Homo sapiens: one gene and its partners. The gene in region 3 interacts genetically with the main gene of each other region. Each region holds a gene or a part of one and is shown on either strand. Other genes may lie near its edges. The genes, in order: EGFR, LEO1 and FARSB.

Region 1 (3,658 bases), on a different chromosome or scaffold from region 3:
AGATCGCATTATTAAACCCTCCAGCGCATTAGAGCAAGCCTCAGTAAGGCGCAGGCCACATCGTGAACTAAGCAGCATCCGTGAGTGGGGCCCACCCAACTCCATCTCCCCCTCCCCGTCTGAACTCTCCTCTGGTGCTCGTCCTCACTGTCCGGCTAGCCAAAGCCTCAGCTGGGTCTAAGAGAGAAGCATGGTCTATTGGGCTTTGGTGTCAGGCAGACGTGGCTTCACACCCCTGACTCTCCACTTCTTCGCATCACCCAGGCAGCCGATCCACCTATCTCCTTCCATAACACAGGAATACCAAAACCAAGCTCACAGGATTGTCTCAAAGATTCAATAAAATATGTTGCAAAATACGCTCCCTAACACCTCACAGCAAGGTGCACACTCGATGAATGCTGCAGCTTCTTCCCTTTCTGTTTCCTCAGAAGCTATTTGAATCTCATGTAGGGGCTTTCAAGCATCAAAGGATGGTTCATGTTTTATTTTAAGGCACCCACATCATGTCATGAGGGGAGGCAGCTATAATTTAGAGAACCAAGGGGGATTTCATTATAACAAAATTGGCAAACACACAGGCACCTGCTGGCAATAGACCCCTGCTCCTATAGCCAAGAAGTGGAATAGCATCTCTACGGGCCATTCTAATAGCCTCAAAATCTCTGCACCAGGGGGATGAAAGAATGCATTTGCCAAGTCCTACAGACTCCAACTTCTACCGTGCCCTGATGGATGAAGAAGACATGGACGACGTGGTGGATGCCGACGAGTACCTCATCCCACAGCAGGGCTTCTTCAGCAGCCCCTCCACGTCACGGACTCCCCTCCTGAGCTCTCTGGTATGAAATCTCTGTCTCTCTCTCTCTCTCAAGCTGTGTCTACTCATTTGAACAAATTGAATTTTAGGGAAAATAACCATCTAGTGAAACTCACATGGATATGAAGTCAATTTTAACCAAATGGTAAAATCAAAATCAAAATAAATTAAGTGTATTAATTATTTTGTTGCATTGCAACAACTTGATTGTAAGCCTTTTAGGTCCACTATGGAATGTAATTAAATCAAAACTAAACCTAGTTGCTCTAAAACTAACGATTAAGACAAAAATTAAACACCTTCACAATATACCCTCCATGAGGCACACCACCTGCATTCAGGAAAAGTGGATGAGATGTGGTACAAGCATTCCATGGGCAACTTCTCTGTTTCTTTTTCAGAGTGCAACCAGCAACAATTCCACCGTGGCTTGCATTGATAGAAATGGGGTATGTATGAACACCTTATAAGCCAGAATTTACAGCTCTCCACTATGGCTCTATTTTACATGGAAAATGCCTTAACCTAAATAATTTTAACCCAGATAATCTTGAGTTTTCTTCCTGTGTGGGTTTTTCCCTGCACGGCTGTCACGCCTCACAGTGCCGTTCAAAGCGTGACTCCTGGACCAGTAGTAGCATCGCCTGGCCTTGTTAGAAACGCCATTTTTCAGGCCACTGCCCCAGTTTGACCAAATCAGGACCTCTGGGGGTGGCACCCAGTAGTCTATGTTTGAGCCACTTTCCAGGTGATGCTGATGTCTGTTGAAGTGTGAGGCCGTGGTCTAGACCGCACTGTGCCATGCAGAAACCACTAGCCACATGTGGCTACTTCAACTTAAATGTTAATGAGTTAAAATGAAATAAAATATAAAATTCAGTTTCTCACACATGTGAAGTGTCCAGTAGCCACACGTGGCTAGTGGTGACCGTATTGAAGAGCACCGCTCATAGCACACCTCCCTCACTGCGGAAAGTTCTGCTGTACAGCACCCAGCACAGCCCTGCTGCCCACCCTGCAGCCTGTGGCCCAGTAGCACCAGCACCCACCAGGGTGCAGACTCTCAGGCCTGCCCAACCTACTAATCAGAACCAGCATCTCAAGGAGATCTCGGGTGATTTTTGCAAACACTGAAGTTGGGGCAGCCCTGACCGGAGTAACCTTCCCTCATTTCCTCCTGCAGCTGCAAAGCTGTCCCATCAAGGAAGACAGCTTCTTGCAGCGATACAGCTCAGACCCCACAGGCGCCTTGACTGAGGACAGCATAGACGACACCTTCCTCCCAGTGCCTGGTGAGTGGCTTGTCTGGAAACAGTCCTGCTCCTCAACCTCCTCGACCCACTCAGCAGCAGCCAGTCTCCAGTGTCCAAGCCAGGTGCTCCCTCCAGCATCTCCAGAGGGGGAAACAGTGGCAGATTTGCAGACACAGTGAAGGGCGTAAGGAGCAGATAAACACATGACCGAGCCTGCACAAGCTCTTTGTTGTGTCTGGTTGTTTGCTGTACCTCTGTTGTAAGAATGAATCTGCAAAATTTCTAGCTTATGAAGCAAATCACGGACATACACATCTGTGTGTGTGAGTGTTCATGATGTGTGTACATCTGTGTATGTGTGTGTGTGTATGTGTGTGTTTGTGACAGATTTGATCCCTGTTCTCTCTGCTGGCTCTATCTTGACCTGTGAAACGTATATTTAACTAATTAAATATTAGTTAATATTAATAAATTTTAAGCTTTATCCAGATACTCATAACCTGCTAACACACACACATATACACACACATACACATACACACATATACACACACCACACACATACACAGACACCACACACATACCATACACAGACACATACACATGCACACACATATACACACACACCTCAAATACATACACACCACACACACATACATGTATACACACATACACACACCACACATACACCACAAAAACCCCACACACATACACATATACACACCACACACACCACATACACACACGTATACACACATATATACACACATACACCATGCATACATACACACCACACATACATACAGACACACCACACACACGTACACACAACACACAACACAGACACGTACACACACTACAGACATGTATGCACACATACACACACACCACACATACATACACACAGACACATATACACTACACACACCATTACATACACACGTACACATACACCACACACACCACACATACACACACCACACACACATACGCCACACACACACCACAAAAACCGCACACACATACAAACATATACACACTACACCACACATACACACACACACCACACACCACACACACACATACACACACCACACACACCACACATACACGCACCACACATACACACACGTAGACACACCACACACACCACAGAAACACACATTAACACACCACATACACATATGTATGTGCATATACACACCCACACCCCACACACACATGTATAAAGATTTAGATATATATAAAACATATGTTATATATATGTTGATGTAATATCTAATATCTATATATCTAATATGTAGTTTATTAGCTATCTAATATCTATGTCATATATATCAAAATCTTTATATATAAAAATATGTAGAAATCTTTATACATATGTTATATGTATATAAAGATTTAGATATATAACATATGTAAGTTATATATATGTTAGTGTAATATCTAATATATAGTTTATTGGCTATCTAATATAATATAAACAGATTATCAATATTATAAGCTATTAGAAAAATGCAAGTTAAGGCAGATGATATACCTCTTTACACACCAACTACACACACCAACTACACACACACATACA
Region 2 (3,658 bases), on a different chromosome or scaffold from region 3:
CACTTTCCTTTTTTTTTTTGAGACGGAGTCTTGCTCTGTCGCCCAGGCTGGAGTGCAGTGGCGCAATCTCGGCTTACAGCAACCTCCGCCTTCTGGGTTCAAGTGATTATTCTGCTTCAGCCTCCCAAGTAGCTGGGACTACAGGCATGCACCACCACGCCTGGCTAATTTTTGTATTTTTAGTAGAGATGGGGTTTCACCATATTGGCCAGGCTGTTCTCAAACTCCTGACCTCGTGATCCACCCACCTCAGCCTCCCAAAGTGCTGGGATTACAGGCGTGAGCCACTGCGCCTGGCCTTCACTTACTTTTTTTTTTTGGAGACAGAGTCTCCCCTTTCATGCAGTGGCACGATCTCGGCTCACTGCAACCTCCGCTTCCTAGGTTTAAGGGATTCTTATGCCTCATTATTCCCAGTAGCTGGGATTACAGGCGTGTGCCCCCATGCCCAGCTAATTTTTGTATTTTTAGTAGACAGGGTTTCACCATGTTGGTCAGGCTGGTCTGGAACTCCTGACCTCAGGTGATCTTCCCACCTTGGGCTCCTAGAGTGCTGAGATTACAGGCATGAGCCACCGCACCCAGCCAAAAGATTTTATTGTCCTCTAAGACATTAACCAGTTTTGAACTTAACTTAGCAATATTATGTATTTATTTATTTATTTGAGATGGAGTCTTGGTCTGTTGCCCAGGCTGGAGTGCAGTGCTATGATCTTGGCTCACTGCAACCTCCATCTCCTGGGTTCAAGCGATTGTCCTGCCTCAGCCTCCCAAGTAGTGGGCTCACAGGCGTAAGCCACCATGCCTGGCTAATTTTTGTATTTTTAGTAGAGATGGGGTTTCACCATGTTGGCCAGGCTGATCTCAAACTCCTGACCTCAGGTGATCCAGCCACCTTGGCTTCCCAAAGTGTTGGGATTACAGGCATGAGCCACTGCGCCGGGCCTACTTTCTTAATAACGTCCTTTGCTGCACAAAAGTTTTTCATTTTGTGGAAGTCCAATTTATGTTTTCTTTTGTCTTCCATATCGTCTTAGTTTTTGAAGCATAATTTTACTGAATATAAAATTCTTGGTTGACAGTCTTTCTTTTTAGCACTTTGAATGTGTCCTCTTATGGATGGCTCTGGGATTCCTTGGTTTCTGATGAAAAATCAGCTGTTACTCTTATTGAGCGTTCCTCATATGGGATGAACTGCTTCTCTTTTGCCCGCTTTTGGAATTGTTTCTTTGTCTTTGACAGTCTGATAACAATGTTTCTAGGTGTAAACCTCTGTAAGTTTATCCTACTTGTCATTTGTTGAACTTGTTGGATGTGTAGATCTATATTTTTCATAAATTTGGGAGTTCTTCAGCTATCATTTATTTATTCTTTTGAGACAGAGTCTCGCTTTGTCACTCAGGCTAGAGTGCAATGGTGTGGTCTCGGCTCACTGCAACCTCCACCTCCTGGATCCAAGCGATTTTCCTGTTTCAGCCTCTCAAGTAGCTGGGATTACAGGCTTGCGCCACCATACCTGGCTAACTTTTGTATTTTTAGTAGAGATGGGGTTTTGCCATGTTGGCCAGCCTGGTCTCGAACTCCTGACCTCAAGTGATCTGCCCGCCTTGGCCTCCCAAAGTGCTGGGATTACAGGTGTGAACCACCATGCCTGGCCTCAGCTATTATTTAAGAATCTTTTTCTGCTCATTTCTCTTCTTCTGAGACTCCATTATGCATACATTGGTATAACTTAAGGTGTCCCATAAATCTTCTAGACTCCGTTCCTTTCTCTTTATTCTTTTTTCTTTCTGTTTCTCAGATTGGACAGTCGAACTGAGGTATCTTCAAGTTTACTGATTCTTTCTTTTTCCTGCTCAAATCTTTGGTTGAGCCCCTCTAGTGACTCTTTGATTTTAGTAAATATATTTTTCTTTTTCTTTTTCTTTTTTTTCTTTGAGACAAAGTCTCACTCTGTCGCCCAGGCTGGAGTGCAGTGGCTTGATCTCCGCTCACTGCAACTTCTGCCTCCCGGGTTCAAGTGATTCTCCTGTCTCAGCCTCCTGAGTAGCTGGGATTACAGGCATGTGCAACCATGCCTGGCTAAATTTTGTATTTTTAGTAGAGACAGGGTTTCGCTATGTTTGTCAGGCTGGTCTCGAACTCCTGACCTCAGGTGATCTGCCTGCCTCGGCTTCCCAAAGTGCTGGGATTACAGGCGTGAGCCACTGCACCCGGCCTTAGAATGTTAATTCTAACAGTTTTTGCCAGTTTCTTCATTGCTTTTATGTTGGGATGGACTTTGGGACTGCCTTACTCTGCCTTTTTTTGCTTATGTTATCCTATGTTTATATGACCCCATAGATTCTGATTCTGGATCTGACTCAGATTCTGATCAAGAGAATGCTGCCTCTGGCAGTAATGCCTCTGGAAGTGAAAGTGATCAGGATGAAAGAGGTGATTCAGGACAACCAAGTAATAAGGAACTGTTTGGAGATGACAGTGAGGACGAGGGAGCTTCACATCATAGTGGTAGTGATAATCACTCTGAAAGATCAGACAATAGATCAGAAGCTTCTGAGCGTTCTGACCATGAGGACAATGACCCCTCAGATGTAGATCAGCACAGTGGATCAGAAGCCCCTAATGATGATGAAGACGAAGGTCATAGATCGGATGGAGGGAGCCATCATTCAGAAGCAGAAGGTTCTGAAAAAGCACATTCAGATGATGAAAAATGGGGCAGAGAAGATAAAAGTGACCAGTCAGATGATGAAAAGATACAAAATTCTGATGATGAGGAGAGGGCACAAGGATCTGATGAAGATAAGCTGCAGAATTCTGACGATGATGAGAAAATGCAGAACACAGATGATGAGGAGAGGCCTCAGCTTTCCGATGATGAGAGACAACAGCTATCTGAGGAGGAAAAGGCTAATTCTGATGATGAACGGCCGGTAGCTTCTGATAATGATGATGAGAAACAGAATTCTGATGATGAAGAACAACCACAGCTGTCTGATGAAGAGAAAATGCAAAATTCTGATGATGAAAGGCCACAGGCCTCAGATGAAGAACACAGGCATTCAGATGATGAAGAGGAACAGGATCATAAATCAGGTAATACATTTATGAGAACCAGAATGGCTCAGAAAGAAGCATTCAGATACAGCAGGGACCCATTTAGTCTTTATTCCCATCTTTATTACCCTGTTTTTTCTCTTCTGTCCCCTCCCTTTCAAACTTTTCTAACTCTAGAATACATTTTGCTTCTTTTAAATCTTTCTAATCCACTTATTCTTTCTTACTCCTTTCCCTTCCATTTGTTAATGGATAGGTCTGGGGGAAAACAATTTAAAGAGGACTTAAAATTGAGTCTTAGAGGGAGGGATATGGTGTAAGAAGAGCTGATAATGAGTTAAGTTGATTCCATTTCTGTGGATAACTGAAGAGCATGCCTCATGTGAGAGAATAGATTAGCCTGGGGAAAAAAACCATACCATTGAAGTGTCCCCACAGAGCAGCTGTACTGAGATGTGGGCACCATTGCTGCAGCTCAGCTTTTTGAGATCCAAAATTTGATCATCCAGAGATGGTCAAGCTCTAAGGAGTTTACTCAAACTAGTCAAATTTACAAGATATTAATGTATAAAATTGAATTGCAAAATTGTTTCAAGAG
Region 3 (3,658 bases):
TGCTAATAAACTATTAATTATTGTAGACTCACTGTGTCTCAGGGTACTATGCCAGGTCCATTTTATGCATTAGCATTTAAATCTTTCCAATAGTACCATGCCATAATGGCTGTGAAATACCATTTTATAGATGAGGCAGCTGTAATGTTGACACAAGATACCAAGAAAGTTTACATAAGGTGCCAAACTCTCAGATCTAATAAGTGGGATAGAATTCAAACTCTGATTGACTTGGCTTCAAAGCCAAAAGTGTCAGGCCACCTCAGACCATTTTACCTGATAGGACTTATGTGACATTCTGTTGTGTGAGATCTGTGATTTGGAGCCTACTTTATATCTGATCTCTACTTAACAGGTGAACAGGTGTTTTTCTTCTGTGTACATGCAAACTTCCCAGTGCAGGTAACCTAAACTACAGTTGATATTAGTGTAGATTAATCAAGCCTTTAATAGTTTTTTCTTTTTTTTATCTTAAATTTTTTTGGCCCAGCTTTTTTTTTTTTTTTTTTTTTTTTTAATTTTTTGAGACGGAGTCTCGCTCTTGTCAGCCAGGCTGGAGTGCAATGTCATGATCTCGGCTCACTGCAACCTCTGCCTCCCAGGTTCAAGCAATTCTCCTGCCTCAGCCTCCCAAGTAGCTGGGATTACAGGCATGCGCCACCATGCCTGGCTAATTTTGTATTTTTAGTAGAGACAGGGTTTCACCGTGTTGGCCAGGCTGGTTTCAAACTCCTGACCTCAGATGATCCACACACATTGGCCTCCCAAAGTGCTGGGATTACAGGCATGAGCCACCATGCCTGGCCTGTTTGTTTTTAAATGATAATATGTGATGCCTGATATTTAGTAGTATGATTGGTGTAAGGCAATTAGTAATAAGAAAATGCAGTTTGTATGTAGTTTTCACTTATACTGAACAGAGTGAAATTAACCATCTCCTTTTTTATTTTCCTAGCTGACGAAGAATTTGATGAACTATGTTTTGAATTTGGTCTGGAGCTTGATGAAATTGTATGTATTGGATATTTGTCTATTTTTCAAAGATTGTGTGCATAAGCTTATTTTTCAGGGTTATACTGTATTTCATCTTTGTTACCTTATAGTTAGACTAAGGTGATAATGTTTGTGGGCCATGATTTCTGTGTTCAGAGGGCTAAGCTCCATGTCTGTCTGTTGCCTTGACTAAAATCTCAAAAGGAGTTCATGCCTTATTCCATCTACAATCACCTTGTTACCAGGCTCATGCTGTGGAAATGGATAGAATGTGTTAGATAACCCCAGTATGAAAGTAAGCTCCCTCCTTTGGCAAATTAATCACAGAAAGGGACCAAGAAGCAGTAGAAATGTTGCTTCAACCAGAGTTACCCTGCCTCCTTCACTTCCAGCGCCTCCTCCTTCAGCTCCTCTGCCCCCATAACCTTCCTCCGTGCCTCTTCAACCAGTACTAATGCATTACTATATTCATTGGTCTTGTAAAATGAACTAATATTTTTTAAGGACTTGCTTATAAAAATGAGGAAGCATTTTCTTTGACTTTTGATTGTATAATGATTACAATATTTAAAAAAATCAAGTCGGCTATACATTTTAATATTGTTAATAATGATTATCTATTAAAGACATACTTTAATTTGGTGGGGTTGGGGGTCTGAGTCCTTCCTCGCGGGGGCTTGATGGGTCCTGAGCATCCTCTGGCCGGGGTTTCTGATCCATCTGCTCCAGCATAAGTTCACAAAGTACAGTCCGCAGGCCAGCAGCATCATCTGGGAACTTAGGAAAAAACCAGCCCTACTGAACCAGAAACTGGGGATGTGGCCCAAGCAACCTTTTACCAAGCCCTCCAGGTGATTATAATGCAAGGAGAGACGAGGTTTTACCATGTTGGCCAGGCTGGTTCTCGAACTGCTGACCTCAAGTGATCCACTGCTTTGGCCTCCCAAAGTGCTGAGATTACAGGTGTGAGCCACCATGCCTGGCCCAATGTGCTTTATATAGTTTCACTCTGTTGCCCAGGCTGGAGTGCGACAGCGCGATCTTGGCTCACCACAACCTCCTCCTCTTGGGTTCAGGCGATTCTCCTGCCTCAGCCTCCTGAGTAGCTGGGATTACAGGAAGGAGTCCTTATCTTGGACCTGAGGCTGCTTTCTTGAAGAAAACTTGACTTTATTTCATTTAGTGGGAAGAGCAGCAGCCCAGCTAATAAGTTCTAATATGCAATAGGCTGCAGGCTGTGAAGTCTGAAGCTAAGGAGCTGAGGGCTTAACAAGTTTCTAGAAGCTGCCATCAACATGCCAAGTCAGTAAAACTGAAAGCTGGTCAGATTTCAAGGTCTGGGGAGGAATCCACTGCATAGTGGGTCTTGAGCTCTAGAGAGCTAGGCCTTGCTAAAATAAAAGAATTACCTTACCTACCATCTTTGTTCCAGGCTCCGTAGAATTTGTGACAGCCCTGGCTGACCTCCGAGCAGAGGCTAGCTGTCCCATCTGTCTGGACTACTTGAAAGACCCAGTGACCATCAGCTGTGGGCATAACTTCTGTCTCTCCTGCATCATTATGTCCTGGAAGGATCTAGATGATAGTTTCCCCTGCCCCTTTTGCCACTTGTGCTGTCCAGAAAGGAAATTTATAAGCAATCCCCAGCTGGGTAGTTTGACTGAAATTGCTAAGCAACTCCAGCTAAGAAGCAAGAGGAAGAGGCAGGAAGAGAAGCATGTGTGTAAGAAGCATAATCAGGTTTTGACTTTCTTCTCTCAGAAAGACCTAGAGCTTTTATGTCCAAGGTGCAGTTTGTCCACTGATCACCAGCATCGCTGTGTTTGGCCCATAAAGAAGGCTGCCTCCTATCAGGAAAAAACTGGAGCAATACAATGCACCGTGGAAGGAGAGAGTGGAACTAATTGAAAAAGTCATAACTATACAAACCAGAAAATCACTGGAACTGAAGAAAAAGGTAAAACATACGGCAGAAGAAGTCAAGTCTGAATTTGAGCAACTTAGGTTATTTCTGCAAAATGAGCAAGAGACTGTTTTTGGGCAATTACAAGATGACGAGATGGATATTTTAGCACAACTAAATGAAAGCCTAACAAAATTTTCAGATTATACCTCCTCATTAAAATATCTACTAAAGAAGATAGAGAGCATATATGTGAAGTCAGAACTGGAATTACTGGCTGATGTTAAGGATATCTATCACAGACATAAGAATTTAAAATTCCCTAAACCTTTTTTATTCAAATTAAAAGAATATGGTTACCATCTGTCTCCACAATATTGTGGCCAAAACAAAATTATCAAGCGATTTCAAGTAGATGTAATTCTAGATCCTGAAGCAGCACATCGTAAACTTATAGTCTCAGAAGATAGAAAAACTGTGCGATATGGAAATACAACACAAAACTTACCTCATAACCCAAGAAGATTTTATCTGCTCCCAGCTGTTCTGGGTTCTAAGGGATAAAATTGTGGCAGGCAGTACCGGGAAGTAGAAGTTAAAGACATGCCTGAATGGATTCTTGGTGTCTGTAGTGACTCTCCTCCCACAAGGAGGAAGAGTCAACCAATTTTAGTACAGGATGGATTATGGAGAATTTGGTAATCTAGTCGGAATAATTATATTGTATTGGGCCATAAGGAAATTATTCTGCTGCCAAAAGTA

The links.
Region 1: changes in FARSB (region 3) and EGFR together harm fitness more than expected from each alone (negative genetic interaction), as found in Homo sapiens cells (one large-scale study listed by BioGRID).
Region 2: changes in FARSB (region 3) and LEO1 together harm fitness more than expected from each alone (negative genetic interaction), as found in Homo sapiens cells (one large-scale study listed by BioGRID).

Annotation. Positions count from the first base shown.
Region 1 is NC_000007.14:55,200,514-55,204,171, forward strand, and holds part of EGFR (epidermal growth factor receptor isoform a precursor), read left to right. Parts: intron 1-674; coding exon 675-842; intron 843-1,221; coding exon 1,222-1,269; intron 1,270-2,003; coding exon 2,004-2,112; coding exon of another isoform or gene 2,113-2,252; exon of another isoform or gene 2,253-2,563; intron 2,564-3,658. UniProt on the Homo sapiens protein: Receptor tyrosine kinase binding ligands of the EGF family and activating several signaling cascades to convert extracellular cues into appropriate cellular responses.
Region 2 is NC_000015.10:51,965,190-51,968,847, reverse strand, and holds part of LEO1 (RNA polymerase-associated protein LEO1), read left to right. Parts: intron 1-2,343; coding exon 2,344-3,099; intron 3,100-3,658. UniProt on the Homo sapiens protein: Component of the PAF1 complex (PAF1C) which has multiple functions during transcription by RNA polymerase II and is implicated in regulation of development and maintenance of embryonic stem cell pluripotency.
Region 3 is NC_000002.12:222,646,093-222,649,750, reverse strand, and holds part of FARSB (phenylalanine--tRNA ligase beta subunit), read left to right. Parts: intron 1-955; coding exon 956-1,011; intron 1,012-1,625; exon of another isoform or gene 1,626-1,910; intron 1,911-2,754; exon of another isoform or gene 2,755-2,950; intron 2,951-3,404; exon of another isoform or gene 3,405-3,658.